Linked DNA regions of Homo sapiens. The main gene of each other region encodes a partner of the protein of the gene in region 2 in a complex. Each region holds a gene or a part of one and is shown on either strand. Other genes may lie near its edges.

Region 1 (3,500 bases), on a different chromosome or scaffold from region 2:
GTCATCCAATTACAGCAAACACTCCATGAGAGCTAAAATTCTGGCCTGTTTTGCTTACTGCTGTATCTTCAACTCCTAGAATAGTGCCCAGCATTGACAGATGGAGGAACAAAGGGAAGAAAGAGGGGAGAGAAGAAGGAAGAAATAACCCCAAGTGGATCATTTTTCTTTTGTGATTCTTTCTTTGATCTGGTGAGTCGTAGTGAAGCAGGATTCTTAATTTGAGACTTGTGGACCCCTAAAGCACTGGTCCTCAAAGTCTGGTCCTTAGATGGTATTACATAGTTGTTTATTAACACCTAAAATTCTAGCCCTCATTGCAGACTTATTGAACCAAAATCTCTGGGGTAGGAATTACGAATGTTTTCAACAAGATGTTTAAGTAATTCTTAAGCACTAAAAGGTGACAACCACCAACCTAGGCCTTCCATGCTCAGGCCTCAGGAGATCTAAAAAAAATTCCCTGCAAATTCATATAATTTTGGTTGTGAATGTAGTACATTTTCCTGGGAAAGGATTCACAGTTTTAGTCACTCACCCATGATATTAAGAGCAAATCTATACTTTTACTTTCTATCCTATACATTGATCCTAACTTCTAGACCCATATTATGTTACACAGATGTCTCCAAATTACCTCAATCTTGAAATGTATAAAATTAAGCTCATTATTTTTCATCCTTTTCTCCACCTCAACCCTATGCTTTCTTTTGCACCCATCTAACAAGTTGCTCAAACCAGAAACCTTGTGGTTGTCTTGGACTACTCCTCCCTCACCTCATAGTGTAGAATCAGTCACCTCCTAGACCTCTTTCAAATCTACCTCTTTCCCATCTCACAGCTGTGGTCTTATATCAAGCTCTCCTCCTACAATAGCTTCCCAGTATCAGTCTGTTTCCTCTAATTTGTCCTCTATAATATCGCCAATAGTGATCTTCCTGAAATGCAAAATTGATCATAGCATCCTTCTTTTTAACAAACACCTTTCAACTGTTCCTCACTTCCTTTTAGGAAAAAACTCAAACCCCTCACCATGGCCTATGAAGCTCTGTAATGAAGCTCTGGCCTGTCACCACACCCTGTTCACGCTGGCCTGCTTGCAGCTCTTAGAACACACCAAACTCTCCTGCTTCGGACCATTTTGTATATGCAGTTCCCCTTACCTTCAATACTCTTCTTCCTTGCTCTTCACAAGACAGACTCCTTGAAACTTTAAATTTCCGTTTGTATTTCCTAAATAAGGTATGATCTCTCCTTATTTCCATGCTTTAGCATATGCTATTCTCTGAGCTAGAGGGACCTCACCCCCTTCATCACTTTCTTTTCTGACTTAGCTAACTCCTAACTCTCATATAAGACATAAATAGCATCATCTCTTCCAGGAAGCTTTTCTTGACAAGGTCAGATATTCATCCTCTCTCTATCTACTACTGATAGCCATAGAGAGCCTTCTCTTTTGACTGTGATAATAGATAAATCTGTGTTCATGCATGGAAAGTTATGTACTTCCTAGTAAATTATACAATGCACAGATTAATGGGTTTTTATATAAAAAGTGGCATATGTATAATTTGAAAAACTTGACTCTTATGTATTAAAGGAAAATCTTCCTTCTGTTTTGTTAGCTTTGTTAGCCACTACAACTAATAAAGATCACTACACTCTTGAATGAGAATCTTTTGAAATGTGTATATAAAAAGGAGACACTACTATAAATTACTGATCCAAGCATTTCCCATATATCATGTAGGATGCCCACACACCAATATTTAAACTTTTAATACAATAAATTTATAACATCTGAAGTTTGAGTATTAACGTAATGTTATGTGAGGGGGAGAAAAAAACAGACTAGAAATTCATATATAAGATTCTAATGTTGTAGAGAGATATACACACACACACACGCACACCCCTAGAGTAAGGAAATAGTCTAACACCTAAATAATTTCTGTTTTTCATATTTTTCCAAAATTTGACATATATAACTATAAAAGTAATATACGTTACTTTTTAAGAACAAAATTAAGTTTTTGTAAAAATTTTGTACTTTCTATGAATTGTTCAAACTATATTAATACCAAAATAAATACTTACATCAACTAAATCTGGTGCATCACCTTTTTCACTATAAAAAAAATAAGCAAAACAAATTTTAGTTTCAAGGTAAAACTAACACAATTATTTTGTAACCCAAAAATCTAGAATAGTTTGCTGGGAATAACATTCCAAAAATGTATTTCAACATAGGAATTTAAGAAAGGCATTATAGAACAGATGGAAACATTCTTTAGAGTCATTTTTTATAAGTGGAATAAGTATGATTCATTAGCAAATATATGCGTTCACTAGAATTTGAAAGGAAAAAAGCAAACAACAACCGACAGTGTTATTTTTATGATCAATGGTCTGCAAAAAACAATTTCTTTTATTGGCTTGAAATATTCTGACTAAAAAAACCCCCAAATCCTTCAAATAGAAGGGTATTAAGAAAAGATTGTCTTAAAACAGGAGTTTCGAAAATGAGCTAAACTGAGTACAACAGCATTGTAGTGCCCCTTGAGATACTGGCCCAGTTTATCTTGTGCTATTACATCTAACACCAAGACGTTTTCCCTTCTCAAAGAGAAGCAACAAAGGTAGCAAGACAACTTTCTGTTAACTCCTCAAAGTATGTGAGAATTTATAGTCAGTGGACTGGCCCCCAAACTGGTAACTTCTTCACAAAAACCTTTAACTGTAATTTGTTCATTCATGATACAATTAAGGCAAAAATGCTTCAAGGAAAAGGTAGCAAAACAACCTTGAATTAAGCATTACACTGTTAAAGCAAACAGTTTCTAGTCCTAACATGTAATGGTAAAACAATTTTAAATGTAATTCATTCAACAGAGGTAGAGAGCAAGTGCGAAAGTGACTAGAGCGTTTGTTTCTCTCTATCAAGCTTGAAGTTCTCTATCTCTGTTATCAAAATGCTTTATTTTTTTGGCTGGCTTAAAAATTTTTGACTTATGAGGACTGACTGTTTACTCACAGAAGAAGCAAGAAAATTATCTGAGCCAGAAAATTAAGAACTTAGGATCATACCAACAATGGACTAACCTTTCTACAACTGGAACAGAACTGAGATGTGGATCATCCTTAAGCAAGTCATGACTACTTTTGCTTTTGCCCTTCATGCTCTGCAAAGAATGTACAATATAATCATGAGGGGGGAAATAAACAGTATTCCTAAATAACAAGTTAACAAATTTACATAAAACCTAGCAATGATATAATATGGTTAGCAAAAGATGTATTCCTGAAAAGTTTAATACAAACTAAAGTTTTATAAGTAAGAATCTTACTCTTCTATTGACTGAAAATAGTATTTTAGAAACACCTTTTCTTTCAAAAAATGATATATCATTTAAAAGAAGTCTGTTGAATTACCAACTTGAAGCACTAAATTCTCATAATAATTTGCATACTATGAAACTAGTTAATTTTTATGACCCCTA
Region 2 (3,500 bases):
TGCTGATGGGGATGATCCTGTAGACAGGGAAAACTGATGGCACAGGAGAGAGAGGGCAGAATTGCCAAAGGTCTTGAGTGGTGAGAAGGGATGGGATTAGTTTCTAGTAGACAGAAACATGAACAAATCATTCGTAAGAACGGAAGGGAAGGCATCGTATATGAGTACAGATGTAGGCAGGTGGGTAGAGGGACTGCTGGGTGCTTGTTTTCCTTCACACAAATTCCAGCATGCCAACCTCTTCCTTAAGAACACAAAACCCTCCAGTGGTGAGACCGGCTACCTCCTACCATCTTACACTCTACTTCTACTAAAGTGGCCTAAGATTACATTAGCTCTTTTGGCAGCCACATATATCCTACTGGTGGTGGCTCCAAATAGCTATCAAGCCAGTTTTCTCCTGCCCCATACTGCTGAATATATTATGAATCTAACTGCAGGATTTTATATAATAATTTCTGACTGCCTGTAATTATCTCTATCCGAGTCTACAGTAGCTCAACAAGTCTAAACAAATAAAACTAAACAAATATTCTTTTATCATTGCTTTTTCTAATTTTTAATTTTTTTATTTTTTTGAGATGGAGTTTCACTCTTGTTTGCCGGGGCTGGAGTGCAGTGGCGCGATCTCAGCTCACTGCAACCTCTGCCTCCTGGGTTCAAGAGATTCTCCTGCCTTAGCCTCTGGGCATGCCACCCAGGCGCATGCCACCACGCCCAGCTAATTTTTGTATTTTTGTATTTTTGTATTTTTAATAGAGACAGGGTTTCATCACGTTGGCCAGACTGGTCTCGAACTCTTGACCTCAGGTCATCTGCCCACCTCAGCCTCCCAAAGTGCTGGGATTACAGGCATGAGCCAACGCACCCAGCCTTAGAAGGGACATCTTTCTTTCCTGTCCCCATTACCAAAATCTATGCATCTCTACTGTTATATACCTCAATATAATTAAAAAAAAAAATCTGTCCAGGTGCGGTGGCTCACACCTGTAATCCCAGCACTTTGAGAGGCTGAGGCGGGCAGATCACCTAAGGTTGGGAGTTCGAGACCAGTCTGACCAACACGGAGAAACCCCATCTCTACTAAAAATACAAAACTAGCCGGGCGTGGACGCACATGCCTGTAATCCCAGCTACTCGGGAGGCTGAGGCAGGAGAATCGCTTGAACCCGGGAGGTGGAGGTTACAGTGAGCCGAGATCATGCCATTGCACTCCAGCCTGGGCAACAAGAGCGAAACTCCATCTCAAAAAATAACAATAATAATAAATCTATGCATCTTGTGGACTAGGAGGCTATAACCCTCATTCTGCTGGAAAGAGGGTAGACCAGTACAGCCATTTTAAAGGGCAATCTGACAGTACTTAGTATAAACATATTAACTAAGTATAAATACAATAAGCATATGTAGATAGAGATATAATATCCTACAACCAGCAACTCTGCTCTTGGGAATATAACCCAAAGAAATTTTTCCACATTGCATAAAGGGACACATATGAGAATGTACACTGGATTATTAATTACGGCGAGGGAAGGCTGGTGACAGGTAACCTTGGTGTCTATCACTAAGAGAGGAATGTCACCAGGGCAAACCGAGTAGCAGTCAGTTCCCACAGACTAGATGTACACACAGCAACAGGGAGAAACCCTAAAATGCACCACTCATCATGATGCTGAGTGGGAAAAGAAACAGAACAATGCAGACAATGATACCATTTACTTAAAATACACACACACTATGCAACTCATAGAAAAAGAAACATACATAAATTACAAAGAACTGTGGTGGCAGGTATGGGAATGAGATAAATGGGAATTAACAAATTAATTAAATAACAGCAGAGCTCTCACAGCAATGACACTGAGGAGTAAGAACTAAAGAGTATGAGTGACTCAACTGTTTGTACTGAGGTAAAAACCTTCATAGGGTCTCACTCTGTTGCCCACGCTAGAGTGCAGTGGCATGACCATAGCTCACCACTACCTCAAATTCCTGGGCTCAAGCCATCCTCCTGCCTCAGTCTCCTGAGTAGCTGTGACTACTGGCATGTACCACCATGCTTGGCTAATTTTTAAATTTTTTGTAGAAATGGGGTCTCACTACATTGCCCAAGCTGGTCTCAAACTCCTCGGTTCAAGTGATCCTCCTGCCTTGACCTTCCAAAGTGCTGGGGTTATAGGTGTGAGCCACTAAGTGTTTAGCCCATTATTCTTTATTTTAAAAATTTTTTTGTTAATAGCTTTATAGAGATATAATTCACATTCCATACAATCTATCCATTTTAAGTGCATAATAGTTTTTAGTATATTCACAGAATTGTGCAACCATCACCACGATCAATTTTAGATCATTTTCATCACCCTAAAAAGAAACTCTGTTACTTACCAATTCCACCTGCCCTCACTCCCAACAAAAAAATCCTGCCTCAGCCTCCCGAGTAGCTGGGATTACAGGCGCGCACCAGCACACCCAACTAATTTTTTGTATTTTTAGTAGAGACGGTTTCACACCACGTTGGCCAGGCTGGTCTCGAACTCCTGACCTCAAGTGATCTGCCCGCTTCAGCCTCCCAAAGTGCTGGGATTACATGTGTGAGCCACCACGCCTGGCCTATTACTGGGTTTTTAGTCCCAAATTCATGTATGTTGGGATCACTTTGAATTTAGATTCTGTTATCCAATACATTAGTTTTATGTCATGTGCAAATTAGATAAACCTCTGTTCTCTATCTTTACCCAAGTCACTAATAGGCTGAATGACGGGGCACAATGGTTCCCCTATGTAATCTCAGCATTTTGGGAGGCCAAGGCAGGCAGATTGCTTGAGCCCAGGAGTTCAACACCAGCCTGAGCAACATAGTGAAACCTTGTCTCTATTTAAATATATTTTAAGTTGAAAAGGACAAGACCAAACACAGATGCCTAGGACATGTCACAAGAGCTCTGCTGGTGACCCATTAATCAAAAATCTTTGTGTCCCACTGTTCAACCAGCTGTGACCTCCTCTAATTGTATTATGATGCAGCCCATGTTCTTTTCACTAGGACATCATGAGTTACAGAGGTTAACTGGGGAAGAAGAGTGAATGGAATGAGAACAAAGGAAACCTTTCTATCAACATGGTTTGAATGAGAATGTATTCATGAATTACCTATATAATTAAAGAAAAACACACTGTAAAACCTTTTTTTTTTTTTTTTTTTTTTTTGAGATGGAGTCTCGCTGTGTCACCCAGGCTGGAGAGCAGTGGCTCGATCTCAGCTCACTGCAACGTCTACCTCCCGGGTTCAAGCAATTCTCCTGCCTCAGCCTCCTGAGTAGCTGGGATTACAGGCATGTACCACCACACCCAGCTAATTTTTGTATTTTAGTAGAGACGGGGTTTCACCATGTTGGCCAGGCTGGTCTCAAACTCCTGGGCTCAAGCGCCTCAGCCTCCCAAAATGCTGGAATTACAGGCGTAAGCCACCACACCTGACTGTAAACCTTATTTTCAAA

The links. The genes of interacting proteins can lie anywhere in the genome.
Region 1: EFTUD2 (region 2) and CWC27 share a complex: the UniProt entries of both Homo sapiens proteins name them as parts of the minor spliceosome.

Annotation. Positions count from the first base shown.
Region 1 is NC_000005.10:64,799,930-64,803,429, reverse strand, and holds part of CWC27 (spliceosome-associated protein CWC27 homolog), read right to left. Parts: intron 3,183-3,500; coding exon 3,103-3,182; intron 2,129-3,102; coding exon 2,098-2,128; intron 1-2,097. UniProt on the Homo sapiens protein: As part of the spliceosome, plays a role in pre-mRNA splicing. Probable inactive PPIase with no peptidyl-prolyl cis-trans isomerase activity. As a component of the minor spliceosome, involved in the splicing of U12-type introns in pre-mRNAs.
Region 2 is NC_000017.11:44,889,446-44,892,945, forward strand, and holds part of EFTUD2 (116 kDa U5 small nuclear ribonucleoprotein component), read right to left. Parts: intron 1-3,500. UniProt on the Homo sapiens protein: Required for pre-mRNA splicing as component of the spliceosome, including pre-catalytic, catalytic and post-catalytic spliceosomal complexes. Component of the U5 snRNP and the U4/U6-U5 tri-snRNP complex, a building block of the spliceosome.